Linked DNA regions of Homo sapiens: region 1 is linked to region 2. Evidence: fine-mapped expression QTL. A gene starts in region 2. The other region holds a variant in brackets. All regions are shown on one strand. Distances are between the middles of the regions. Region 1 overlaps MFSD1 (major facilitator superfamily domain containing 1). Region 2 holds the start of MFSD1 (major facilitator superfamily domain containing 1).

Region 1 (16,320 bases), 23 kb after region 2:
GGAGGTTTGATGTGATATGATATGGTTGAAAAACCACTAAGTTGGGAGTCAGGAGCCCTGGCTCTAATGCTAGCTCTAACTAGTTCTGTCATCTTGGATAAGAAAGTTAACCTTCTGTGTCTCAGTTTTCTTTTCTTGTAGTGTCTTTTTTTTTTTTTTTTCAAGTTTAAGCCACTATTATATTTCAAGTATCTACAACAAGAGCTCAATACAATTCCTAGCATTTATTACCCTTCCTAAAATAGGCATATAGAATTGTATCTTTCTTTCCCATAATCAGAAAATAGCAATAACATACATATATACACATGCATATAAAAATGTGTATTTAAAAATGTTTGGTAGAAAAGGTACCATAATTACCAAAATACAGATATTATTTATATCATTTTCTGTTTCTATTTCCTTGTACTTTTCAAGTAGACTTTTTTTTTTCTTTTTTTAAATTATTATTATTATACTTTAAGTTTTAGGGTACATGTGCACAATGTGCAGGTTAGTTACATATGTATACATGTGCCATGCTGGTGTGCTGCACCCATTAACTCGTCATTTAGCATTAGGTATATCTCCTAATGCTATCCCTCCCTCCTCCCCCCACCCCACAACAGTCCCCAGAGTGTGATGTTCCCCTTCCTGTGTCCAAGTGTTCTCATTGTTCAATTCCCATCTATGAGTGAGAACATGCGGTGTTTGGTTTTTTGTCCTTGTGATAGTTTACTGAGAATGATGATTTCCAGTTTCATCCATGTCCCTACAAAGGACATGAACTCATCATTTTTTATGGCTGCATCGTATTCCATGGTGTATATGTGCCACATTTTCTTAATCCAGTCTATCATTGTTGGACATTTGGGTTGGTTCCAAGTCTTTGCTATTGTGAATAGTGCCGCAATAAACATACATGTGCATGTGTCTTTATAGCAGCATGATTTATAGTCCTTTGGGTATATACCCAGTAATGGGATGGCTGGGTCAAATGGTATTTCTAGTTCTAGATCCCTGAGGAATCGCCACACCGACTTCCACGATGGTTGAACTAGTTTACAGACCCACCAACAGTGTAAAAGTGTTCCTATTTCTCCACATCCTCTCCAGCATCTGTTGTTTCCTGACTTTTTAATGATCGCCATTGTAACTGGTGTGAGATGGTATCTCATTGTGGTTTTGATTTGCATTTCTCTGATGGCCAGTGATGATGAGCATTTTTTCATGTGTCTTTTGGCTGCATAAATGTCTTCTTTTGAGAAGTGTCTGTTCATGTCCTTCGCTCACTTTTTGATGGGGTTGTTTTTTTCTTGTAAATTTGTTTGAGTTCATTGTAGATTCTGGATATTAGCCCTTTGTCAGATGAGTAGGTTGCGAAAATTTTCTCCCATTTTGTAGGTTGCCTGTTCACTCTGATGGTAGTTTCTTTTGCTGTGCAGAAGCTCTTTAGTTTAATGAGATCCCATTTGTCAATTTTGGCTTTTGTTGCCATTGCTTTTGGTGTTTTAGACATGAAGTCCTTGCCCATGCCTATGTCCTGAATGGTAATGCCTAGGTTTTCTTCGAGGGTTTTTATGGTTTTAGGTCTAACGTTTAAGTCTTTAATCCATCTTGAATTAATTTTTGTATCAGGGGTAAGGAAGGGATCCAGTTTCAGCTTTCTACATATGGCTAGCCAGTTTTCCCAGCACCATTTATTAAATAGGGAATCCTTTCCCCATTGCTTGTTTTTCTCAGGTTTGTCAAAGATCAGATAGTTGTAGATATGCTGCATTATTTCTGAGGGCTCTATTCTGTTCCATTGATCTATATCTCTGTTTTGGTACCAGTACCATGCTGTTTTGGTTACTGTAGCCTTGTAGTATAGTTTGAAGTCAGGTAGCATGATGGGACGTGTCTCAAAATAATAAGAGCTATCTATAGCAAACCCACAGCCAATATCATACTGAATGGGCAAAAACTGGAAGCATTCCCTTTGAAAACTGGCACAAGACAGGGATGCCCTCTCTCACCACTCCTATTCAACATAGTGTTGGAAGTGCTGGCCAGGGCAATTAGGCAGGAGAAGGAAATAAAGGGTATTCAATTAGGAAAAGAGGAAGTCAAATTGTCCCTGTTTGCAGACAACATGATTGTATATCTAGAAAACCCCATTGTCTCAGCCCAAAATCTCCTTAAGCTGATAAGCAACTTCAGCAAAGTCTCAGGATACAAAATCAATGTATAAAAATTTCAAGCATTCTTATACACCAATAACAGACAAACAGAGAGCCAAATCATGAGTGAACTCCCATTCACAATTGCTTCAAAGAGAATAAAATACTTAGGAATCCAACTTACAAGGGATGTGAAGAACCTCTTCAAGGAGAACTACAAACCACTGCTCAATAAAATAAAAGAGGATACAAACAAATGGAAGAACGTTCCATGCTCATGGGTAGGAAGAATCAATATCATGAAAATGGCCATACTGCCCAAGGTAGTTTATAGATTCAATGCCATCCCCATCAAGCTACCAATGACTTTCTTCACAGAATTGGAAAAAACTACTTTAAAGTTCGTATGGAACGAAAAAAGAGCCCGCATCGCCAAGTCAATCCTAAGCCAAAAGAACAAAGCTGGAGGCATCACGCTACCTGACGTCTTGTAGTGTCTTTTAAGGAAATTACCTCCTGTTCAATTTCTTTTTCTTGTAGTGTCTTTTAAGGAAATTATCTCCTGTTCAATTTGGATCCTATTATAATATAATTACAGTTGTTTCAACAAGACTATATAGGTCACTACTGTCCCTAAGTTCTCTTAGCTATGGCTCCATGGTGCTAGTTGCTGGGTGGGTCACTGGGAAGGGCACGAAGCCTTCTGGGTTTACCACTTTTGCTTTTTCTCTGGGCAGGCAGTTTGTCTAACTGAACCCTGTGGTGTGCATTTGGCTGTTTGCAGGGCTGTAGAGAGACCTGTGTGATGATAGGGTGAAAGTTCTGTGCCCAAGATGTGCACATCTTTTATTCCCTTTTTCCCTAATTTTTAAATTGACACATAATTATACATATTTATGGGTACAATTTGATGTTTCCATACACAGATACATTGTGTAACAATCAAATCAGAGTATGTAGCATATCCATCACCTCATGCGTCTATCACTTTTTTGTAGTGACAACACTCAAAACCCTCTCTTCTAGCTATTTTTTAATGTATAATCCCTTACTGTTAACCATAGTCATCCTGCTGTGCAATAGAACACCAGAATTTACTCCTCCTAATTGTAACTTTGTACCCCTTGATTAATGTCTACCTGTCTTCCTTTCTCCAATCTCCTCCCCAGTCTCTAATTAAACCACTGATCTACTCACTACTTCTATAAGATCAGGTTTTTAAAATATATATATATATTTTATTCCACATATGCATAGTATTTGTCTTTCTGTGTTTTATTCCTTATAATTCCTTGGTCGATACAGCCTGGTAAAAGAAGACAGTGGAGTGGTAATCCTAAGCAGGCAAGCATATTTAAAGATTCTTTCAAACTCTCCCTCTCAAATCCTTTGCCTTACTTAAAACCTCCTTTTTACTCTTAAAAGCTTCTTAGTATTCCATCTAATTTCCTCCACAATGGGAAATTTTAGAGTAAGACTTTTAGAGCCAGAAAAGACCTGTGCCATCATCAGGTCAAATCCTCTTATTTAAAACTGGGGAAATTGAATCCAAGAGAGCTTGTGTTCCATGTCCAAGGTGATTCAGCTCGTTAGAGCTCACGTCTACTGATGCTCATTTCAGCGAATTTTCAACCGGGCTGTGGTAGGGCAGTGAATTAAAGATTCATTTATTTTATTAAGCTTCTTTTGGAAATTCTTCCTGAGAAGTGTATCGTTATTCACTCTTTATCCTGATTTTCTGTAGTGATATGAGATTGGTATTAGAGAGAAATGCTGATCTCACAGGAAAGAGCTTGAGAGTACTGCGCTTTGGGAGGATGGGGCACTTGGGCTGCCAGAGGGCAGGAGCGAAGGCCGTGGACTCTGGGAAAACATCGGAAGGAAGAGAGATGAAGAGCCTAACTTGGCTTCATCATTTTTTCCCTGGTGTCCATTGACAATTGGTGCTTAGACTGAATGAAGAAATGAGGACTACATCAGTAGCTGCTCATCAGTTTTCTTCAGTCTGTATTCTGCATTACAGGACTAGACTAGTTTTTTCTAGTCTTTTCCTTTTAATCTTTAACTTTGAACTGTGAAATAATGCAGTAAAAGCTACTACTGTTTGCTGAGTATTTGAATGTACTCTTCCTCTTTTGTCCCGATTTAGTAATTGCAGATTTTTCTCGTGTCTTTATGTGACATCCCTTTCAGTTGCTGTTTTTGCTGTTTATGTAATGTACTTCTCCTTAGGAACCTTCTGTTTGGTTCTCTTTTCAAAGTCTGTTTTTCTTTTTTTTTTTTTTTTATTTAGGGGGTATAACGTGTATTCTTTCACTAATCTGTGCCTTGGCTCTTGCCTACTTGGATCAGAGAGCAGAGAGAATCCTTCATAAAGAACAAGGAAAAACAGGTAAGTCTAAATGAAAGAATGGGACTTAGGGGAATTACGGCCTTTGTGAGATTTTATAATGAGATCTAAGTTCCTAATGAAGTGTTGTAAAACCAGGTGGAGCTTAAGACATGATTTTTATTTTTTATTTCCAAATTGATTTCCACTTTTCTAAATTTTTAGATGTATTTTCTTTTCCCCTTAAATCTTTTGGCAGAATTTACATTCTCGATTGTATATTTGCAAAATGGTTATTCTTGGAAAGGAGCAGGAAAGGTAGATGCCAGTCTTAGTCTTAGGTTTTGCTTTTTCTTATGTCTTTGTAAGTTATCCCAGAAATGATGTTTGTGTAATTTACTAGAAAAGTATTTTTTTAAGTTGAATTGCAAAGATTAATCACAAGATTTTAAAAAATAATCTTGACTATAGATGAAAGCTCCTTAGGTATGCAAAATTATGCTGATAGTGTCTTCCCTTTCTTCTCTAAGGTGAAGTTATTAAATTAACTGATGTAAAGGACTTCTCCTTACCCCTGTGGCTTATATTTATCATCTGTGTCTGCTATTATGTTGCTGTGTTCCCTTTTATTGGACTTGGGAAGTGAGTATTCTCTATGTTTCCATTATTTCTTGTCTAAATTATCATGAGAGTTCAATCACATAAATGTAGTTTTTAAAGCAGTAAATCTTGCTTCTCTGGTTATAGTTTATATTTTCACAGGAATTACTTTAGATCCTGGGATATACATTTTCTTTTAGCTTAAGGTTTAGTATTGGTTTTATACTTTTATTATTCTTTTGAAGAAATACCTGTATTACTCCACTCTCATGCTGCTAATAAAAAACTGCCCCAGATAGGGTAATTTATAAAGGAAAAAGATTTAATTGACTCACAGTTCCATAGGGCTGGGAAGGCCTCAGGAAACTTATAACCATGGCAGAAAGGGAAGCAAACATTCTTCATTCACATGGTGGCAGGAGAGAGAAATGAGTGCCAGCAGGGGAAATGCCAGCTGCTTATAAAATCATCAAATCTCGTGAGAACTCACTCACTATCACGAGAACAGCTTGGGGGAAACCACTCCCATGATTCAATTACCTTCTACAGGGTCACTTCCATGACAGGTGGGGATTACGGGGATTACAATTCAAGATGAGCTTTGGATGGGGACACAGCCAAACCATGTCAATACCTAATAATTTTTGATTCATAATATTGATTTAATAGTTGATTTTAGACTAGTATTCTTTTTCATTCCCTCTTTATTCCTTGGTTAGAAAGGCTCTTACTGAGAATGGAGACTGTTTATTGGTGCACTGTGCCTGGGAACATCTCCATTGATTAGGACTGTAATTCTGCCAGACTTAAATTCTGGGTTCAAAGCAAATTCTTCTTTGCTTTATCTTCTACTTCTCTCTCCTTTTTCATTGGCAGCTGCTTAAGCAGCGCAATGTAAGTGTGTTTGTGTAAGGGTATGGTTTATACCCTTTGAGTTCAGGCTGTCCTTTTAAATAGTTTCAGACAAGAACCCTGTTTATTATTTAGCAAAGAACCCATTCAGTACTGCTTTTAAGGAAAAGAAGCAGCCTTAAGTCCCTGTGGTAGTATATTTGATTTTCTGAAAATTTGTGTGTATTCCTTACTGCATACCAGAAAAGGAAAAAAATATGCATCATATGTCATTTAGTCAGTAAACATTAATATAAATACTGAAGCTTTAGCAGATTGCCTGAAGGTGAATATAAATAAGGTGGGAGAATAATATCAAGAAAGAAGCTGATTAAACTTGAGTTATTTTTATTCAACTTTATTTTTTGAAAACAGAGTAGTTCTCTCTAATGTGCTAATTTCTCTGTCTTTTTAATTTTAGAGTTTTCTTTACAGAGAAATTTGGATTTTCTTCCCAGGCAGCAAGTGCAATTAACAGGTATTTTAAAATTAATTTTGTAAGTGCCTATTGCATGTGAAGTATGGGTCTTTATAATCAAATGTTAAAAGAAGCAAAAAAGATGTATGTGACCTAATATTTTTTAAGTGCGAAACTGGGACTACATTGGGACTTGAATCCTGAGTGGCTGTGTTTAAATTAGTGGAAAACCAAAGAAGTCTTGAACTGCTTTTTATATTTTTTGATGAGCATTTTATAAGAATGTTAAATGAGTTAGGATTTGCTTTGCCTGATATTTTCAAGACTTTCTTGAAACTGATGTTTGACTGTGTTGCATTTCATGAAATGTCTTATGTGTTCTCTGGGCAGTGTTGTATATGTCATATCAGCTCCCATGTCCCCGGTGTTTGGGCTCCTGGTGGATAAAACAGGGAAGAACATCATCTGGGTTCTTTGCGCAGTAGCAGCCACTCTTGTGTCCCACATGATGCTGGCCTTTACGATGTGGAACCCTTGGATTGCTATGGTAACGTCTGTGTTAGCCCATGGTGGGGTCAGGGCTTCAGCAAGGAGTCTGTCATGTTCATCTAAGTAGGCACGCTCAGCAAATTCAGATGACAAGGCCTATGATAGTGGGGAGATGACAACTTGATTCCAATATCTACAAAATAATTATTTTTTAAAGTATAATTATGAATTATTAACATATAAGGTATCTTTTAATTTCATTTGATTTATTTAACCAGTTAACTTCAGTGCTGAAAGAGAATTTGAAATAAAGTAGCCTTATAAAAGCCAGAATGCTTATTAGTCCCATTTGTTTTTCTAAAATAGGTGACTTAAAAGAAGGCATTCCATCATAGATGGCAAAAAACCAAAAATCTGTTGGACCAGTAACTCTTCTTTTTCTTTGACTTGCTTAGTAGGTTAAAAAGTGATAATGAATTCAAGTTTTTGTTATTGTTGTTCAAAACATCATTTTTAAGACCCGAGGCTCTAGTGCTGCATTTCCTACCTGTTAATAAAGGAATATCTGGAACATAAATATTTGTGCAGTGAGTGGGCATTTCTCTAGAAGTGTTTCAACAGATACAGTACAGACTCCTAGAAGTAGAGATGCTACAGCAGTGGGTTTGCGTATTTAACATCTTGGTTGAGATTGTGAAACTTTCTCCGATAACTTTCTACCCATTTATAACTTTAGTAATATACAATGTGACTTTTTTTAGTATCCTTGCTAGTATTGGGCATTGTCATTGTTTTAATCTTTGCCAATCTGATAGTTATAAGTGATACTCATTTAAATTTAAATCACAATATTTCTTTTTTAATTGAAGAAAAAATCAGCATTAGGTGAGGTTTACCAAGCATTGGTGGTGATTACTGGGTATTGGTGGCTCAGACGTAGGATGATGGACTGTTGGCATGATATTGCCTTGATTGCCTAATCTGTAACTCCTAATAAATACTGGAAAATTAGCTTGCCTGAAACATTGGTAAGAACTTTTTAAAAATTACCTTTATTTTCTTACTTGGTCCTTGACTGCATCTTGGGCCCCAGCCAGTTACATATGCATATAATATGATGACAAATGAAAATGGTTAAGACAGCATGTATCTTGTCGCTAAAAGGATACTCTTAGGGCAGAGACTTGTTTTGTATATTTTGAATACGAATTTTAGCCTAATAACAACAAAATTTGCTTGAATATATATATATTAACTACTCTGTCACTTTTGCTAATCTGCATTAAAGGAAAATCACCTTTTGGTTAATGTAAGACTGTGACCTTTTCTGCGTTGCTTTCTGTAGTGTCTTCTGGGACTCTCCTACTCATTGCTTGCCTGTGCATTGTGGCCAATGGTGGCATTTGTAGTTCCTGAACATCAGCTGGGAACTGCATATGGCTTGTAAGTATTTACGCTGTGGATCGTATATGTCTGTCTCTGCTATGTCAATTTAATTATCATATAAAACTCCAGATCTGAATCTAGTCGTCATCCAGCCTCTGGGGTAGCGCTGAACCTGGAGATAACTGGAAAAGTCAGTAAATCTATTTAAGATACTGTTGTGGCCACAAAAGAGCCTCCAGCAAGAGGGCTGGAGTAAGCTAACCCAGAAGAGGTCCTTGCTGACATTATAATCTCCCTGCCTGTTTATGTGAGGCTTCTTAGTGAGAAGCTGAGTCCAGTTCCTGGCACAGAAAGGCAGAGGGGGGAAACCGCACCTGTGGTTGATATTCACATGGCCCTTCTTTCATTCAGCACAAAGGTATTGAATCCACATTGCACTTAATGAGACAAGCTCCCTTACCTTTGAGCAGTCTAGTAGTGGAAATAGTTATGGGATAAAAACCAATCCAAAATCTAATCAAGTCATCCCTGGTGGAAAACATCTCTGAACACAAATAGTATATGGTTCACAGATACTAATATTTATAGTGAAGTGTTAGCCTATGTGTGAAGACTTTTGAAAATGAAATGTGTCTTTATATTTCTTCCATTGTAGCATGCAGTCCATTCAGAATCTTGGGTTGGCCATCATTTCCATCATTGCTGGTATGATACTGGATTCTCGGGGGTATTTGTTTTTGGAAGTGTTCTTCATTGCCTGTGTTTCTTGTGAGTATTCCGTATGACAACATTTTGTTTCTTTTACTACATAACAGAATGTTCTTATTTTTACTTAGGCATAGCTCCCAGATTTGCCTAATTCTCACCTGTGAATTAGAATTTCATAGCTGGTGACTTTCTAGCCCTCTGAAGATTCACAGGCATTTTTTAGGAGATTCCTATCCTTAAAGGCAGTGATTGAGTTGGTTTCATATTCTGTTTTAACTATTTACAGTTTAAAAAAAAAAAGCATTTTCCCACTTAAAGTGGAACAATTTGAAGAGTCCTGAGTATATCCTTAATGTGACTATGTGGAAACGTTGGTGTGATTTAGGTGTGAGTACTCATGGTTATTCATTAGGCAGTTTTAACTGATTTTTATTTTTAGTCCGTAATTTAGTTTTTACCTGTAATTTCATTGGTTTGAAATTGGAAGCATTAGGAAACTTGAAAAATATATAAAAATAATAGCATTTGTCCATAGGTAATCTTTACCCTACATATAAATTGTGTTTATCTGAAAAGAAAATTCTCCTTAACACATCAAGATGTCTTTTATAGTTCAATATTGTGCTTAAAATGACAAACCACAGTGATGATTTTATCAAACTTTG[T/A]TTTCATTTATAGGGAATAAAGACCATCCATACCTGAAGTGTGGTATTTGCAGATAATTGCTTATGAGTTGCCTTGAGTGCATTTTATTATCTCATAAATAAACGTGCTTGTTTTAGAAACAAGGACGTCAAGTTTTAAAAATAAATGTTTAAAAAAGTGGGTCATATAAGAATTTCAGACATTAAATCATAAAATGTTTTTTGTCTATTTTTGTTGTTGCAGCATGTGGTTAAATGTCAGTCCACAGTTCAACATGTATTTGGGTCTCAAAGCAAACAGTGTGCCGTTTGAATATGTTTTTCTGTTATTTTATTTTATTATTATTACTTTTTTAGAGACAGGATTTGTCTCTGTCACCCAGACTGGAATGCAGTGGAGCAGTCACAGCTCAATGTAACTTTGAACTGCGGAGTTCAGGTGATCCTCCCACCTCAGCCTCCGTGATAGCTAAGACTACAGGTGTGCACCACCATGCTTGGCTGGTTTTTAAATTTTTTTGTGAAGATGCTGTCTCACTGTGTTGCCCAGGCTGGACTTGAACTCCTGGCCTCAAGCGCTCCTCCTGCCTTTGGGATTACAGGCATGAATCAAAATAATAAGATAATAGGCCTGCCCTATTATTTTAAAGTAAATTAAACAGTGTTCTTCACTTATTAAAGGAAAAAGCCAAGGGAAAACTTGAATTTTGAGGTCTTGATTGATTTGAGTCTAATGATCACATTTTAATGTTTGGTTACTTGAAATTTGTAAAATGGACATGGCATTTTCAGACTTAAAGCCCCCAAAAGACTACTATTTGGCTTCCTCTGAAATGATAAACAATCGGGGGCTGGCAGGAGTTTTTGGTAAGTCCTGCAAAGGACCAGCACTGAGAAAGGGAGAGGAAAGAGGGGCAGGGCTGGGCTGTGGCTGGGTCGGCTCCCTTTTTTCTAGGGGCCTCAACTTCTTTGTTTCTGGCCTGCCACCCCTGGGCTGAGTAGCCCTTGGAGAAAATAGTGTGTAACTTATTTTTAGTGCTTTTGGAAAATAAAATAATGGGAATAATATTTTTATTTAAAATAGCAATTAATAAAGGTTTGATTGTGTCTAAGCTTTGCTTTGTGATTATGATTACATAGGAATCATTGAGAAGAAATACATATTTTAAGGGCCCTATGTTTTTTCACTCCTAGTGTCACTTTTATCTGTGGTCTTACTCTATTTGGTGAATCGTGCCCAGGGTAAGTAGAAGATCTGATATTTGCTTCTTAAACCGCAGTGGATCATCTTGTGGGGTCTCTGGGTCTGCCTCTTTGGGGGCCAGTGCTTTATTCCATGCAGTAATGACTTTCTGTTCATAATGATGGAAACACATTTGATTATGTAATATATAATTATGTTTTCTGGGCCTTCATATTTATTAAGATTGCTGTCATTTTTTAAAATCTAGCCAGATGAGTTTCTTAATAATATAAAATCTTAGATGTTATTTTTATATTAACATAAAGAAATATAGCATTTAAAAAGTAACCTAAAGCCCCTCTGTGTTATTGTCCTACGTTAAAAGAAATCAGAACTAAGCAAATTTATAGCTATAATTTACATTTTAAGGTTCAAGATGTTTGGTTTAGAATTAGAAATTACAGATTTTTTTTCTTTTGCTAATTCGTACTGTATGCATTAGTGGATTTTTGTTGTTGTTCTTGATAAGATTTTGATGTTGTCATTAGTAATTTTTCTAACTGCTTGCTCCTAAAGAGTTTTATATATTTAGTAGAATATAATATATATGCTGTGTAAATAATTTCAGGTCATTTCCTTTTTTTTTTATTTTAATAGTTTTTTTTTTCTTTTCTTTTTTTCTTTGACAGAGTCTCACTCTGTCACCCAGGCTGGAGTGCAGTGGTGCGATCCCAGCTCACTGCAGCCTCAACCTCCCAGGATCAAGTGATCCTCCCACTTTAGCCTCCCAAACAGCTGGGACTATAGGTGTATGCCACCACAGCCAGCTAATTTTAAAATTTTTTCTAGATATGGGGTCCCCCTATGTTGCCCAGGCTGGTTTCAAACTCCTGAGCTCAAGCAATCCTCCCGCCTTAGCCTGGGATTTACAGGCGTGAGCTACCACACCTGTTCATTTCCTTTAATTTCTCTTAATTTTCACTATTATTGAATATTAATACAGTGTCCTAAGTAACAACACTTGAAGCAATACATAAGTCCAAACTTAAAAAAATGCTTAAATTAAGGGGTGATTATTTATATCACACAAGAATTTCATTTTTTCCCTTTGGGAAGGTTCCAGTAGATAAACCATTACTTTTTCATCGTCGATAGCTTTTTCTATTACTTAAAATACAGTGTATCTATGCAAATGGTTGCATGTATGTATGTATGGTTGAAATTTACTTACTGATAATACTTATATGGAAAAGATCTATGTTTATTTGTGTTTTAGGTGGGAACCTAAATTATTCTGCAAGACAAAGGGAAGAAATAAAATTTTCCCATACTGAGTAAGTATTAAAAGGGTAAAAAGTTGTCTTTATTTTTGAAATCTTAAATATGAGCATTTCGTTTCAAGGTTTGGGCTTTGAAGTTTTTTTTTTTTTTTTTGATTCCCATGCTTGTCGTCCAGGCTGGAGTGTAGTGGCATGGTCACAGCTCACTGAAGCCTCAACTTCCTCAGCTCAGGCAATCCTCCCATCTCAGCCTCCCAAGTAGCTGGGACTACAGTTGTGTGTCAACATGTCTGGCTAATTTTTTGTATTTTTAGTAGAGATGGGGTTTTGCCATGTTGCCCAGGCTGGTCTAGAACTCCTGGGCTCAAGTGATCTGCCTGCATCGGCCTCCCAAAGTGCTGGGATTACAGATGTGAGCCACTGCGCCTGGCCTGGGCTTTGAACTTCTAAGAGATTAGTTTTCCTTGAGTTTTGAGAGCTAGCTATTATGTGTGTGGAACTATTATAACAACATTCTTGTTTGCTTCAGAAAATTTAAAAATGGATATTAAGGCTTGAAACGAAGAAAAAAAATAATTCAATTTAAGTTGTTCTCTGTGAGACAGAGAGAGACACAGAGAGAGAGAGAGGGGGAGAGAGAGAGAGAGAGAGAGAGAGAGGGGGAGAGAGAGAGAGAGAGAGAGAGAGAGAGAGAGACAGAGATCGATCTATATTACTTGTAATTTATTGGAGGAAAGGCCTTCGTCCTGAGGTCCTGGACTGGGCTTACCCTTCCATTCTCTCAGATATTTTCTTTTTCTTAAGTAGTTGATAATTTTTCATCTTCTTCTGGTACCAATATGTGGTTCTGTGTTCTCTGATTCATTTGGAAGAGATTTAAGTATATAGCATGGTGATTAAGTTAACATTTCTTTTTCTAAAAGTATGTACTGAAACATAATAGTGATTCTGTTTCCTGTTATTTCTAATATTTTTAGACATTGAAGTTTTTATGATTTTAAACATTTATTTGTAAATATATATACCATGTGATTGTAATTGTTGTGACTTTTGACTAGGTTAAAATCTGGTAGAACAGTCTGTTTTTTTGAGATGGGGGTGGTTTTGGTCATATTAAATTCACTTTTAACAAATACATCTTAAAATAATCAGAAGTATGAGTTTTGAATATCTTTATGATAGTCATATTATGTTAAAAGTTTGGAAACAACATAAATGTCTTAGAGTAGGGAAAATGGTTAAATATATCATGACACATCCATGTGATATGTTGTTAAAACCATGTTTTAGAAGGATTTTTAATGTCATAGATGCTTAACATGCCGTATGCTAAGTAAACAAAAGATAAAAATGCAAATATAATATCCTAATTTTATTCAAGAAAAAGTATGCTGTCACATGCTTGTTTTAAACCCAATTACTTATGTATAATAGAAAATATACTACTAGAAATAACCTCATATTAATTGAAACCTCAGAATATTAATTAAAAACTCAGAATATTTTTCAAATTTTCTACATTGATCTTTTGTGACTTTTAGGATCAAGAAGAGTTAAAAAATTGCTCAGAAAAAAAATGTGTAGCTTAGTATTTGCTATTACATGTCTTGTAATGCTTGGTTTTCATTTTATAAGGCAGGTGAGCTTCATGTTTTTTTCTTCCTCTTTGGTAATTTATTGCGTTATGTTTTGCAGATGAGAAGTTAAAATGAATGTGTCATGAGAATGGGCTTAACACATCGTTGGTTTGAAAACTTCCATTTTTAAAAATTTAGAGTTTAGTCATTAGAAAAAATAATGGACTGGAAAGTTATATTTATATCCAAATATACCTATTTCAAAGTGTATTTGTGAGGCCTGTTTTAGCCTGTGTCTTTTGTATTGTGTGTTGCTAAAGAATTCTACTTTTAGTAGGCTAATCAACAATGAAAGGGTTAGAAAATTGCTGTGGAACATCCAGGTGAACTTCAGGAAAGACAGTGAAAAATGGAAAACGTTGGAGCTTCTGTTGAGATAATCTTCATTAGGTATATATCTTAGGGATACAGCCTTTTCTTTATCTTATAGCAGGAAAAAAAAACTTTTGAGGGAAATAGAAGGGCTGCGTTACACAAAATAAACAATGGCATTGTCATAGGCCTTCCTTTTACTAGTAGGGCATAATGCTAGGGAATATGTGAAGATGTTTTTATGAAGTCTCTTTCTGATCACGAACAATAGCTTGCGCTCTACTCTGTAGTTATGTGGATTGCCGAGCAATGACCCTTTTCAATTTCTTATTTCTGTGTTACTGAGGACCCTAATCACTTAGGGATGTAATTTTATAGTATAAACTTTCTGTACAGTTTTTCTTATAGTCTAATAAGTAAAAAGTGTCCTTCAAATTATGATAATTGCCTATGTACATGGATAAATTAAAACACTGCACACGGAGTACTTGATGTCTTCTTTTGATTTTAAAAAATACAAAAACACTGATTTTAACTTTTATTCATGCAGAAGATTATCTAGAAGAAAACCCAAGTCAGAATAAAGAGAACTTGCCCAATTACAGTCACTGAAAGATTATGGGGGTAGCTTTTTCTCCAGAGTAGAACTTTAAGTAACATATGTGGTTTTTTTTATATTAAGTAAAATATGAGTATGAAGCTTCTCTGACAAACTTTAAATACTTTTTAATATTTTTCAGCCTTAACATATTATTTGTTAAAGTCAAAGAATGCAGATATTTTAGACAAGATATTAAACCAATGTATTTAGCTGATTATATTGTTTAAAGCACATGGCATGATATTGTAAGTGTAAATGTTTGGGAACAGATTGAAAGTACGTTCCTTATGCAAGGTAGCTTGGCAGCTTTATTTACATCTGTTTTTCTGACTTACAGTTTATTGTGTTGATATGACTTGTCTCTGTGTCCCTACCCAAATCTCATCTCGAATTGTAATCCCTATGTGTTTGAGGGAGGGACCTGGTGGGAGGTGACTGGATCATGGGGGCAGTTTCTCCTATGCTGTTCTTGTGATAGTGAGGGAATTCTCATGAGATCTCATGGTTTAAAAGTGTGGCACTTCCCCTTCACACTCTCTCTCTCTCTCCTACCACCATGTAAGATGTGCCTTGCTTCGCCTTTGCCTTCTTCCATGATTTTAAGTTTCCTGAGGCCTCCCAGCCATATGGAAGTGTGAGTCAGTTAAACCCCTGTAATTTACAAATTACCCAGTCTCAGGTAGTATCTTTATGGCAGTGTGAGAACTGACTAATACATGTGTCATTATTGAGTTGTTAGTTCTTTAGGCTCTGACGCCATATGACTGTTTCAGCACATGGGTGTTGAATACCTCACAAGTGGGGGAGAGTGCAGGAAGTCCACACTACTTCTGCTGGAAGGCCCATGTGGCCTGGCCTCTTGCCTTGTCTCTCCACCGCCTCTGTGCCCCAGCCACAGTGAGCTGCTTACATGTTTTCAAATGGGTTGTGTTCCTTTCCCTCCCAGCGGCTTTGTCCACACTGTTCCCTTTGCTTAGAATGTTTTCTCCAAGGCTCTCTAGAACCTGTTTTTACCTGATTTATACCAGAAAACCTTAGCCCCCAGCCCAGAACCATTCTTCCTCATGGAAGCTCTTCCAGATCCTTCAGGGTGTATTGGGTTCTTCTAAGTTGCTGTGATCTTGCAGTTTTCCTTTTTAGCTTACCTCAACTTAAAATAATGAAGAATCTCTGATAATGTGGGTGTGGGTGTCTCTCTCTTCCTTAAATTGGAAGCTCCTTGAGGGCAGGGACTGCGTCCGTTTTGTTATCGATGATTATATTGATAGTGCCTAGCAAAAGTAGGCACAAAATAAATATTTTTTTGAATGATATATAAAAAGAGTAAATTAGAATAACCCTTTTGGAGGATGAATTGGCAATATGAATAAAAAGACCTAAAAGGGGGATGGTGGTGGGCTAAATGCCTTTTGGCTTAGCAATTCCATTTCTAATAACTTGTCCTAAAGAAACCATCAGACAAATATACATGTAAATATATTTTAAGAAAGCGTCTTCACTGCCAGATTTTATAATAGCCTAAAGTATAATAGAAAGCCACTCTAATTTACAATAATAGGGGATTTGTTAAGTACATCATATTACATACCTAAAGTGAAATATTAAGTAGTCATTAAATGGTTTTGTTAGAGAACATATTGACATGGAATAATGTTGATGACATTTTCACACGGAAGATTCATAGTGGTGCCATTTTTA
Region 2 (13,437 bases):
CTAGTTTTGCTGTTGCATCTCAAACTGCAAAAATTATGGCCATCCATTGTGTGCCAAGTGCTTAGTTAAATGGAAAAGGTATTACATTTATTGGTGGAAGACATGAAGAGAAAATGTGTTCTGATTGATGGCAATGTTAGGCCAAAAAGCATTCAGCTACATGAAGACTTCAGCAAGGGATCCCCTAAAACTAGTGACATCAAGCCATTTACTGCAAGTAAGGGATGGTTAAACGGATTCAGGAGTACAGAAGGTCAATGGTAGCTTATTGCTGTCACAATGACTACATCATTCACCTCACTTCATCTCATCATGTAGGCAGTGTATCATCTTGCATCAACATAAGAAAATATGTACAATACAATATTTGGGAGAGAGGCCACATTCACATAACTCTTTTTACAGTGTATCATTACAGTTGTTCTATGTTATTATTAGTTATTATTGTTAATCTCTTACTATGTTTAATATATAAATTAAACTTTATTATAGGTATGTATGTATAGGAAAAAAAACATAGTTTACATAGGAGTTCGGTACACTCCATGGTTTCAGGCATCTACCTGGGGAGTCTTGGAAAGTGTTCCCCCAGGATAAGGCGGGGGCTAGTGTACAATAAAAAGCAGTATTTATTAAGCACATAAACATTCTTTCAGATCTATTATTCATTTATTTAAATTTGTAAACATTTATAGGGTACAGGTGCAATTCTGTTACATGCATAGATCATGCAGTGGTCAAGTCAGGGCTTTTAAGGGTATTCATCACCCAAATAATGTACATTGTACCCATTAAGTAATTTCTCAGTACAGAATTTCTCACATTCACCCTCCCAACCCTTCACCCTTCTGAGTCTCTACCATCTATCATTCCACTCTCTATGGCCATGTGTTCACATTTTTTAGCAGTCACTTAGGAGTGAGAACATGAACTCCCTAGACCTCTCAGTGGACACTTTCCTGCTATCTTGGCCACTAGTTTTGCCAGTTAGGCTCTAAAATATAAGGACAGCCTTAGACTCCTAGAGTACATATTTTTCTTTTAAAATTGGTACTTCATTTACATAATAATACAAAAACTTTTCATTCCTGTGATTACATAAGTCAGCATAAACTATTTTTCATGAGTCACTATATGGAAGTAAACCAACGTCTAATCCCATGATCCAAATCAACGCAGTTATTTTCACCAGACTTCAAAGGCTGTCTTTGCACATCTTCTATGTAGAGTTGGATGAAGCTAATATAGAAGTTGAGAGAGTCAGAATCTCTTTCTAAGGCCTTTGTATATGATGTTGTTTTTGCCTGAAATGCCCTTACTCTGCCCCTCCAACCCCCACTCCCAGTCTTCTTCATTCTTCAAGATCAAGCTCATTTTTCACTGCTTCTGGGCTCCCAAGCAGAACCAGACACTCCTCTCTTGTCCCATACTAGAAACCTGCACTGCTGGTGGGGAGAGGTGGGGGTGGGGGTAGACCGGGGAGACAAAAGAAGGCATTGAAGGGGTTTACATCTTGGCTTCCAATATGAAGGATGAAGATAAAGAGAATGTTTTGGCTCACACAGCACTCAGGAGTTGTAGGAAGTAAATGCACATGAAGACTGAATCCAGAACTTGGATTTTTAGGAGTTACCCTATTCTCTTTTCTGTCTGTGTGGCTAACTTTGCTCCAGAGGCTGCAACCACCCCCACACCTGTGAAACCAGGCTGGTCAGTCTAGTGACCTTGTGTCCAAGATGATAAAGCCTATACTTACACCCCAAATTGCTTTCACTTTCCCATCACTTGATAATTATAAAATAAGTGCAATTTGTTTGGCTAATAATAGGTCAACACAGTTAGAATGAGCAAGTTCATTGTGGACAGGAACAGGTTTTTCCACAGCAGTAAGCTTCCTTTGTTACACCACTAGGTGGTGTAACGTGCTCCTGATTTAAGGGATTCACTTATTAAGCAGTTTTCAAGCTGGCCCTGTTCTAGATGTTTGAGATACAAAGATGCACAAGACTCTTAGGAGGTCAAAGTGTGGTGTATATAGTTTCAGATTTACAGAAAAGTTGTAAGGCTAGTAAAAAGAGTTCCCACATACCTCTACCCAGACACCTGAAATGGCAACATTTTACCATGTTTGTTTTATTCTCTCTCCATATACATATATATCTAATATATGTACATGTCCTTTGACTTCTAAATATCTCAGTATGTGTTTTCTAAAAACAAGTTCCTCCTCCTCCTCCTCCTCTTCTTCTTCTTCGTCTTCGTCTTCGTCGTCTTCGTCTTCGTCTTTTCTGAATTTTGCTCTTGTTGCCCAGGCTGGGGTGCAATGGCTTGATCTCAGCTCACGGCAACCTCCGCCTCCTGGTTTGAAGCGATTCTCCTGCCTCAGCCTCCCGAGTAGCTGGGATTACAGCTATGCGCCTCCACACCCGGCTAATTTTGTATTTTTGGTAGAGATGGGGTTTCTCCATGTTGGTCAGGCTGGTCTTGAACTGACCTCAGGTGATCCATCCGCCCTCCTTGGCCTCCCAAAGTGCTGGGATTACAGGAGTGAGCCACCACGCCCGGCCACAGGTACCTTCTTTTATAACCACAGTCCAGTAGTCAAAATCAGAAAATAAATGCTGACAGAATACAAATTACTTACAGAACTTAGATTTTGTCAACTGTCCCAATAATGTTCCCTATAGCCAAAGAAATCCTGGATCATGTGTTGCATTCAGCTGTTATGTCTCTGGAGTCTTCTTTAATCAGGGCAGTTCCTTAGTCTTTTATGACACTGAGAAATCAGGCCAGTTATTTTGTATAATATCCTTCAATTTGGGTTTGTTTGATGTTTCCTTATGCTGAGATTTAGGTATGATGAGCTTTTGTTAGGTAAATCACAGAGTTTTGTGTTTTCAGTTTCAGTGCATATCTGGGGGCACATAATGTCACTTTGTTCCAATACTGGTAGTATTAACTATGATCACTTGGTTCACGTATGTGGGCCAGGCTTCTGCACTATTTTTTCCTTTGTCATTAATAAATCTCTGGTGAGGAGCTACTTTGAGATTATGCATATATCCTTTACACTTCAAACTTTTATCCACTAATTTTAGTAACTACTGATTCTTGCCTGGATCAGATATTATGATGATGCCTAGCAAACAGTGGTTTTATATTTCCATCATTCCTTCTACATGTATTGATTGGCTTTCTATTACAAGGAAGAGCATTCCTTTCTCTTCTGTTTGTTTAATATTTATCCCAGGTCTAAGGGAAGAATGTACACTATCTTCACTGCCATTTAACATTGAACTGGAGATACTCACTACTGCAGTTAGTAAAGAGAAATCAATTGAAGGCAGGAGAACTAGAAAAGAGTGAGTAAAACTCTTTGTCTTTGCAGATGGTATGACAGTACACCTGGAATATCACAGAAAATTAACAGCAAAACTAAGTCAAACTAGAGAAGAATTCAATAAGTTGGCAGGACATAAACTTAACATACATAAATCAACAGCCTTCACATACATAATCAGTAACATGACATAAAGGTAGAGAAAACTACATTTACAAAAGCAACAAAGAATAATAAATTTAACAAGAAATTTGTAAAATATATATGAAGAAAACTTTAAAACACTCTCAAAAGACATGAAATAGTTTGAAAAACTGGAACACCACTTTTTTTTTTTGTATGTGATGACTTAACATTAAAAACTAAAGTCTCCTTAAGTTAATTTTCAAAGTTCATTAAAAAAATACCAGTTTTCTTATGGAGCTAGGCAAGCTGATACTAATTTCAGGTGGAAAAATATGGAAGAATATCCAGGAAAACAAAAATAAAAGCTATGAAAGGGGACTACATCTACCAGTCACTAAAACATATTCTAAGGCCTCTAAAATAAAAACAGTGGTCCTTGTGCATGACAAGAAAGAGCAGTACAACCGAAAAGAAAGTCCAGAAGTAAACCCAAATACATATGGGAATTTAGTATGCAATAAAGGTGGCATCTCAAATCACTTGGACAAAGATGGACTTAACAATTGGTTAGCCATTTAGAAAAAGATAAAAAGTTTGATCCATACCTCATACTAGGCAAAAGAATAAACTCCAAATGGGTCAGGAATCTAAATCTAAATAATGAAACCATACAAGTACTAGAAAAAAAAATGGGTGAATTCTTCTTTAACCTGGGTACAAGGAAAGGATTTCTAATTATGTTTCAAAATCCAGATGCAATAAAAGAAAAAATTGATAAATTTGACTATATTCTAAAAAAAACCCTTTTCATGACAAAACAAATAAGCCAAAAACTTCATAAAGACAAAAGACAACTGTGAAACTGGGAGAAAAAGGGTAATACCCCATTAATGTACTGTTAAAATTGAGACGAAAGACTTCTTTTGTGCTTAGGATATGAAAAGCTGCAATGAACATCTTTCCTTTCTCAATAATGAGAAAAACTCAGATGAACTACAAAGTCACAACCTTAACTGAAACCATCAGACACAGCTGGGTTGCAAGGTAACCAGGTAGCCTGAACTCCTGGGAAGGGCAAGCCCCCAAGGAGAAGTTCTCAGGCATGCACAGGGGAGTTGGCACTGACTAAAAAGCTCTTTCCTGTGTCCTTCTCTGGATGCTCAGTTTGGTGGGTACATTACCTTTTTACCTTTTTTTTTTCTGTAGGTTTCACATTTCTATAATAATTTTTTGAAGCCCTGAGAATTAAAGCAAGTTTCCACACTCCTAGAACCAGTTTTAAACCCATTCAATTAATCAACTGCCTCAGTAAAACTTGTTTTGAAAAACCCCTCCTTTCTCAAAGTCAGCCAATGACAGGTTCACTCCAATAAATTCAGTGGAGAATTAATAACAGTCTTACCAGAATATCTACTCTTCTACAGGTGATGGCAAACCCTTTTGCCTCTGAAATGCACCTATTCCTGAACTCTGTATTCCCCAAAGCTCCATAGAGCATCAGCAGCCAGCTCTGCTTGGGGAGACTGTGCCGACCCAGCATAGCTTTTCCTTATTAGAGTACACAGTAAATCCAGTTTCGTTGCTTTTTTTTATTTTTATTTTTTTTGAGGCAGGGTCTTGCTATGTCACACAGGCTGGAGTGCAGTGGTGCAATCACGGCTGACTGCAGCTTCTATTTCCTGGGCTCAAGTGATTCTCCCACCTCAGCTGGGGCTACAGGCGCATGTCACCACACCTGGCTAAGTTTTGTATTTTTGGAGAGATGAGGTTTCGCCATGTTGCCCAGGCTGGTCTCCAATTCCTGAGTATAAGCAATATCCCCACCTCAGCCTCCCAGAGTGTTGGGTTTCCAGGTGTGAACCACGGTGCCTGGCCCAGTTTTGTTTCTTTTAGTTCAAATATTGATGGTTGACTCATAATTCCTTGACAAACCAAAGCTCCAAACTAACTAAAAAGATCATTTTGATTGTTGTGCGGGCAACATATCATAGAAATGCAACAACGGAAGTAGAGAGACCAATTGAGGCTGTTGAAAATCTTGCGTGAGAAGCAAACCCCTGGAGTTATAAAATAAAAAGAGAGTTTGGCATTAGAAACTATATGGAAATATTACCGTAAACAGAGTCAAAATAAATATATGCAGCTCCTATCAGCAACAAAGAGCCTATTTAATCAATAAGAAAAAGCCTCAATAATTCATCTGGAAAAATAAGCAAAGGATATGAAGATTATTCCTAGAACAAATATAAGTGGCTGTTAATCACATAAAAGAGGTTCAATATTCCTCAATATAATAGAAATATAAATTGAGACTGCACTATGATAGCAAATTTTCACTGATCATATTTGCAAAGACCAAAAATCTGGTAACAAGCTTGATTAGGATGGTGTGGCAAACAGACTGTTTCCAAGATCGTCCTCAAGAATAAGAACAATTTCTAGGCCACACTGCTGGGCTGAAAGGAAGAAAAACAACTGTGTGTAGTAACTCTGGAAGGATGCAAAATAATCTGATAATGATGATTACTTCCCAAGAGTACTGGGTATAGGGAGGCAGGAAAGACTCGCTTTGAACTTTATTCTCTTTGGTACTGTTTGAATGATATACACCAGATGTATCTCTCATCAAAATTAAGCAAAATAAAACAATTTAAAGAGTCTGTTGTGATTGTCTGGGAGAGATCATTCTGGTAAGAGGAGTAGTGATGGAGAACATGCACAATGAGGGTATATTTTGGAAGAGAGTTGACAAGACATGCTGAGGGAGTAGATGTAGGAGATGAAGTAAGCCATCAAGGATGACTGCTAGACTTGCGGATAGCAAGTGGTAGAGAGATGTCCCATTTACTTTGCTAAGGAACACTTAGGGAGGAATAGGTATAGCATGGGTGAGAGAACTCAAGGATTCTGTTTTAAATGTGATAAGTTTGAGATGCCTATTAGTCATCCACATCATCCACGTGATATCAAATAAACAGTTGGAATGGTAGTCTTAGGCTGAAGAAAGGAGTCTGGAATGAAGGTATTTTAGAGGCAACAGCATATAAATCCACACTGATAAACAGAAATACAATGTAAGCCACATAGGTAATTTTACATTTTCTAGCAGCCACATAAAAAGTAAAAATGGGTGGAATTAGTTTACACACACACATATATATATATAAACTAAAATAAAATTATATATATATAATTTTTTTTTTGAGATGGAGTCTCCCTCTGTCACCAGGCTGGAGTGCAGTGGCGCGATCTCGGCTCACTGCAACCTCTGCCTCCCGGGTTCAAGTGATTCTCCTGTCTCAGCCTCCTGAGTAGCTGGGACTACAGGCGGGTGCCACTACGCCCAGCTAAATTTTGTATTTTTAGTAGAGATGGGGTTTCACCATGTTGGCCAGGATGGTCTCGATCTCTTGACCTCAGGTGATCCACCCACCTCGGCCTCCCAAAGTGCTGGGATTACAGGCGTGAGTCACTGTGCCCGGCCAGTTTTAATATATATACATTTAACCTAATATCTGCAAAATATTATTTCAACATGTAATCAGTATTCAAATTAGGAGGTTATTCTATTTTTCATACAAGTCTTTGAAATCTGGTGTGTATTTTATACGTATTGCACATCTCCTTTCCAACTATCCACATTACAAATGATCAACAGCCACACATGGCTACCTACTGGACAGCAGAGGGAGGGTATTTAAAGTTATGGGAATGGATGAGTGGAAGAGAGCTCAGGAATGGGTCTTGCATCATTGAACATCTAGATTTTGAATAGAAGAGGAGGAGCTGACAAATGAGACAGCAAATGAGATAGGCCAGCAAAGTGGGAGGAACACAAGGCAAGTATGGTGCCAAGGAGGCTAAAAAGGAGTGGCTGTCAATTCCATCAATTGATAGAAGTTGAGTAAGATGACAGAGAAGTGACTAATGTATTTGGAAAGATGGAGTTATTACTCCTCTCGGCAAGACAGTTTTATTAGATCGGGAGCTCCTCCACTGGAGCTGAAGAGAGAATGGACTGTGAAAGTGGAGATATGTATAGACATCTCAAAGGCAGCACCTGATCCTTGACACTCTCTCCTACCTCCTTCTCTCTCTAAATTTTGATCTCTATTGGCGGCCCAAGCTAGAAATCTGGGAGACACTCTCAAGTCTTTCCTCTCTTTCAGATCGCATAGGCTATTATTTACAGTTATTCCCATTTTACCTCCTAAATAATTACTGATTTTCTTCTGTGCCATTCCTGCTTTTTATTGCTAACAGGCCCTCGTCATCTCTAATCGTTACGACTGCAGCATCTTCCTAATAATCCTCACAGTTTTCAGCCTCTAGCTTTGACGCCCTCAAAATTCTGTTAGTAAAGCCTGAGGGCTCCCAGAAAGCGACGATGGTGCTGTGCTGGCAGACCGAATGTTTTTTAAAACACAAAGCTTGCAGTCCTGCTGCTGTGCTCAAAATCCTTGCATGGCTCTTCTTGAAACAGGTTTAGTGTTTCTACTCGAGTTCCTTCTCTGTCGTTCAACACAAACACATACACACCCAGTTCTGTTTCACGCTTTTGTCTTTATTATCCCTCGTAACTGCCCGCCCTGCAACCAACCCGCTCAAACAAGCACCCTGACTGGCGCATTCTTACTCATTCTAGCCTGGGTTTCAACTTCAAGGAGCTTCAGCGCCCCTCACTCCCTTGCCCTGAAAGCTGGCTAAACTACGCACCTTTTCTCCCCTTTTGAAATGACCTTTCCAGATATTTCTATGGAATTCAGTGCCATTTTCTGCCGCTGTTCTCACCACATTCATTCATCATGTTTAGTTTTAAAAGTACCAGATTCTGTCGATTTCTCCAACTGAACTCTGAAATCTTTGAGGTCAGGGAGCTTGCCTCATTCTATTTTGTATTCCCAGTACGTGACACATGGCTGGACACACCAGAAATTGTCCGATCAAGTTTGTGGGTATTAAGAGTGGTCAAAGACGCTGGGGAGGGCAGTGCTGGGAGAAGGGCAGCGCGCGTCTTGGCGACCCCAGCGCAGTTCGAACTACTCCGGAGTCTGGTGTGGAGCCGAGAGGGAGCCCCGCACTTTTCTCCCCGCGGAGCTGCGCTGAGTCTGAAATAGGTGTACGCGTCAGCGGGGCAGGAAACGGAAAGACAGTGCAGTAATTGGTGGAAAGCTGGAAGTGGGCACCTCGAGGGCCTCAGCCCCACGAACACAGTCACCCAGGAAAAGCGAACCGCGCCAGGCCCTGTCATCGACCGCTGGGTCCGTCCTCCCAGCGCTCGCGGCCGCTCACATGGGCGTGGCCCTGCGTGACCTGCCGGGGCGTCACGTGAGCTCCCGGAGTCATGTGACCGCCGTCTTGACAGTGTTCCACGGGCGCTGCTTCCTGCCTGGGTTTGGAGTTGTCACCACTTTCCCCTCTCCGTCTCCTGCGGGCGCAATGGAGGAGGAGGATGAGGAAGCGCGGGCGCTCCTGGCAGGCGGCCCTGACGAGGCCGACAGAGGTGCCCCGGCCGCCCCTGGAGCCCTGCCGGCCCTCTGCGACCCCAGTCGCCTGGCGCACCGGCTTTTGGTGCTGTTACTGATGTGCTTCCTTGGCTTTGGTGAGCCGGCCGGGTGGGTTGGGGCTGATCTTTAAGGAATTCCCGACTTTCTCTTCGAGGTAGATCGTCATCGTGGTCACTGGTGCCACGGGGCCTCAGCGCAGCTTCTGTCTTAAGCTCCTGGGCCTCCTTATTTTCCCCTTTGCGATCGATTCCAGCCACACCTGTGGATGTTGCTAGTTACTCCGCGTCCGGAACGTGGAGGTCGAGGGACTGAGCTGGGCGAGTTTTGTGGCACTCCTTTGCTCTTCAGTAAGTCCCAGGGGCTAGCGACTCGCCCTAGAGGCGATAGATATGAAGGTAACTCCAGATTTTCAAGGTTCCTCTTTTGGCACACGTGGTCGGAGGAAATTCAGAAAGCTTTAACTGTTCCTAAACAACTTTTGTTTGTTTGGTTTTAGGTGAGACAGGGGCTTGCTCTGTCACCCAGCCCGGAGTGCAGTGTTGTGAAAGTGGCTTACTGCAGCCTCCACCTCCTGGGTTCAAGCAATCCTCCCGCCTCAGCCTCCCGAGTAGCTGGGACCACAGATGGGGCGCCACCACACCCGGCTTTATTATTATTATTATTTTTAGACACAGGGTCTTACAATGTTGTCCAGCTTTTAAAAAACGTGAATGATTTCGTCGGCAGTCTTCTATATATTTTTCACCCTCTTTGAGAAAATGTATGAGTGTGTCTTGCTGATAGCTTCAGTGAATAGATATTGTTCTCTTAATCTTCCACTCTGCCACTGTGAAGCAATCATATTGGACGGGACTTGTGGTAGTCTTGACAGTGGTTGGTTTCTCTTATGAAATCTGATGTCTCCGAAAACAGTTTCTTGATAATTAGAAAAAAATTTTCCTTCCTATGTTACAGTTTTTAATTTATTAAGCAAAATTCTAATATTAATTTGGTATGAATGTGTTTTTCAGGAGGCTAGCTGGAGCCCGTGTAATCAGCAGGTTTAAGAACATTATGGTGGATAACTATTCTAGCGCTGAACATATAAGTAGACATGAAGGATGCTTTGGGCTTTGGTTTCCTTGCAACTCCTTTTTCCCCCCTCCCCTGTTTTTTAAAAGATGATGCCCATCCATTAGCTTTAAAGCAGGACGTTGAATCCTTAAAAGAGATTAAAGCAGGGTTTAGAAACAACCACCACCACAACAAAGAAAGAACAACAATAAAACATTAAAAAAAATGGTCCCCACTCAAGCAGACAGACAGTTTTTGGTAAATTCTGGTTATCTGCCTAGAATTCAGAAGCCAGATTCATTCCTTTCTAATGACAGTTTTTATTGTCATTAGAACCAATAGCCTCGTGCACTTGTAGAGTTAGTAGAGCTATGGAGGCAATATTTTCTTGTAGCCTACGAAGGAATCTCAATTATTTTATCTTTAAAATAAATCCGAGTGCATGGTCAGATCTCTCCCTACTTCTCTCTTTCCAGTTCCCCCAAAGACATGTTTTAATTTAATCCTTTAGAATTCTCAGTTTCATTTTTTTTTCACTCCTGGCCCTGTATTCACTAAATTATTTGATTTTGGGTAGTTTGTAGAATTAGAGAACTTGTTTCAAATATTGGTTTTGTCAGAATGGTTACACTCCATTCCTTTGTCCTTAAGCTAACATTATTAGGAAACTGATGAGGTTGTAAAGTTTTTAGTGTATGTGTGTTTGTAAATAAGGAAATAAATAAAATATAGATGCTTCATGAAGATATTAATAAAATAGTATATGTGTGAAGCATGATGAAAGTAAAATAGAAAAATATTTAATTGTTGGTTGTTGACTTTTTAATTCAGGTTCCCAGTATTTGCTGTGTATGAACACTACCAATTTATGGAAGTTATTTGATATAACTTAGAAAATACTGGTGGATAAGGAAGTGGTTCAGAAATATTTCTGTAGTGTCAACCCGTAGTATCAGCATTTAAAATTGTAATTTCAGTAGCAACTGCAACTTGAAACTTTTATATGGGAAGTATTATTACTTATAAAGTATTTGCTCTTTTCTAGGCAGCTATTTTTGCTATGATAATCCTGCTGCCCTTCAGACTCAAGTTAAACGAGTAAGTTGATTTTTCACTCTTGTTTCTTTTGTTTTCTTTAGAGCAAGTGTAGCGGTGGAGGCATTATCAACCCTCAGGTGCCCTAGTCTCACGTGTCCGCTGAATCTATTTTGACATCTGTAGTCACCAAATCCACAAGTTGCAAGGGGTGTTCTTAAGTTGAAATGAGTTACCACAAATAATTCATTTATAGCACATATGTGACTTGAAATTGTTTCAGACCTTAGATAAATAATTATGTGGTATTTCCACAGTATTGTCAAAAATATGAGCAGGTTTTTGTTTGCATTTCACTCTCCCAGTGCTTAGTCACCCGAATGACAAATGATTTGTTAAGATAGCTTTTTGCCTTCTTAAATAGGTTTTAGTTGTTATTTTGTTTTTTAAATGTGGATACTGATTGCAGAGGATTGTCCATGTCAGGATTTTTAGTCTGGTTTTGTATTGTAAGAACATACTTGATATTTACAGTTTTTTGGGTATTTAGTCTCTTTTCTTTGTAGGTTCTTTTTAACCTTTGGACAGGGAAAATGCATAGGTTGACCCTTTTCATTCTAGAATGAAAGAGAAAGGAAGTAGGAGGAGCATGCTTGAGGGGATGGAGAGGGTAGGGTAGGTAGGGATAGGCTAAGATTATCCTTGTATATGTGGGCAGAGTCCCCAGTGCAGGTAGTATATAGAAGTTATAGTCAGACAGAAGTGGTCCCTGTAGCAGGGTGTCTGATCCTGGAATCCAGGAAGCCCCTGAAATGGCATGTGAACTCAAGAAGTTCCCAGGGTTCCCAGGTGTGACCATTTTCCTGGGCCAGGGGCCATAGCTTTCATGAGATTCTCAAGGAAGTTAGTGAGACTTATAAATGGTTAAAAAAAACTTGCCCTTTACAGAAAGAAGAATGTAACTACTTTCCACTTTAGATTGTCATATTTTGATTTGTTAGTTGCTAAACTTAACTGTTTGGAAAAAAATAGTTTTATTTTCTTTTCATATAGGATATGCAAGTGAATACCACGAAATTCATGCTGCTGTATGCCTGGTATTCTTGGCCCAATGTAGTTTTGTGTTTCTTTGGTGGCTTTTTGATAGACCGAGTATTTGGAATACGGTAAGCTTGAAAAGAAACTATGGGTAAATCTTACCTGATTGTTAGAAAAATACAGAGCTAGATTAAGGTATTTCTAGAAAGAGCTGAATAAACTTCTGTATTAACTAATAATTTGCTTGAGTTTTTTAAAAAAATGATTTTTATATCTCTGGAGTTGGTTTTTGAAACGTGGTATTTCAGTTAAGGTCAGGACTAGTAAATGCTGATGGTATAAGGTAACTCAGTTATCCATAGGAAAATTATACTCACCCTTGGGATCAGGTAAACCAGGTTCTGAATCTTATCGTTGCCACTTTCTCATCTTCCTGGCTGTTCTGAGCTGTTTGCAGCTTCCTGAGCTTCAGTTCTCTCATTGCCAAAATATAGATGATTCCTACCTTGCAAGGTGGTTATGAGGATTAAGTGAGAGATGGATGTACAGTATTTGGCACATAGGTAGTATGTGCTTCCTCCAGCCCCGGTGAGATTTTCTATTTCTGCTTTTCTTGGGGTGTAAAACATTTTGTGACCACTTCTGTTAGAGGCTGAGCAGGGAATAACACTATAAGGTTTGCCACTGTTCATCCTTATTATTGTGTGTATGTTGTTAGTGGAACTGAAGAGGAATATAGACTGGGAATATTTTCAGAAGGCAAAGACCAAGATGATGAAAGGTCTTCAAACCATGTCTGGTGGATAAAGATTAAAGAAACTTTAAGAGTTTACACCTGGGGACTAACCTTTAAAATTTTTGAAGAGTTAAAATATGAAGGAAGAATTAAATTTATTTTTTTTGATCTCAAGAGAGAGAATTAGCTTGAAACTTCTGGGGAACAGATTCCTTTTAATATGAGGAGTTTGCTTGGTCAGATTGGCAGGAGATGACAAGAATTGTCTTGGAACCATAGTAAGTTTTCCAGTGCTAGAGAACATTGCTAGAGAACATTCAGTAGAACATGGCATGGTCATTTCACAAGGATCTTGAGAGAGATTTAAGTTTAAGAAGTATGGTTTACCCTGATGGCCTTTAAGGACTCTTCTAATACTGGCATTTTATTATTCTAGGGCAACATTAATCTGATGTCCAGATTGTAGGATGTTAGATTTGTATAACATGGTTGGTGTTTGTCCTTTTAAAAATTGGTTTTAGTTATCAAGAATTATAACCACTTAAAATTACTTACTGTAAAATTCCTTGGAATCAATCCTAAACTCTTAATAGAAATTTTAT

Evidence for each region. PIP is the estimated chance that this variant, and not a neighbour inherited with it, causes the effect.
Region 1: its variant is fine-mapped to the expression of MFSD1 in whole blood (INTERVAL, PIP above 0.99).

The regions. Positions count from the first base shown.
Region 1 is chr3:158,815,212-158,831,531 of GRCh38, forward strand. It overlaps MFSD1 (major facilitator superfamily domain containing 1), which reads left to right. Exons shown (of 16, transcript NM_022736.4): 8 at 4,438-4,536; 9 at 5,004-5,115; 10 at 6,386-6,442; 11 at 6,773-6,929; 12 at 8,217-8,314; 13 at 8,913-9,025; 14 at 10,804-10,851; 15 at 12,069-12,126; 16 at 13,768-14,505. The coding sequence ends at 13,771. Among named protein-coding and RNA genes, the nearest start is that of MFSD1, 21 kb to the left of the region's middle. The variant T/A (reference allele first, on the strand shown) is at 9,631.
Region 2 is chr3:158,793,248-158,806,684 of GRCh38, forward strand. It overlaps MFSD1 (major facilitator superfamily domain containing 1), which reads left to right and starts at 8,807. Exons shown (of 16, transcript NM_022736.4): 1 at 8,807-9,068; 2 at 11,072-11,124; 3 at 12,115-12,227. The coding sequence starts at 8,906.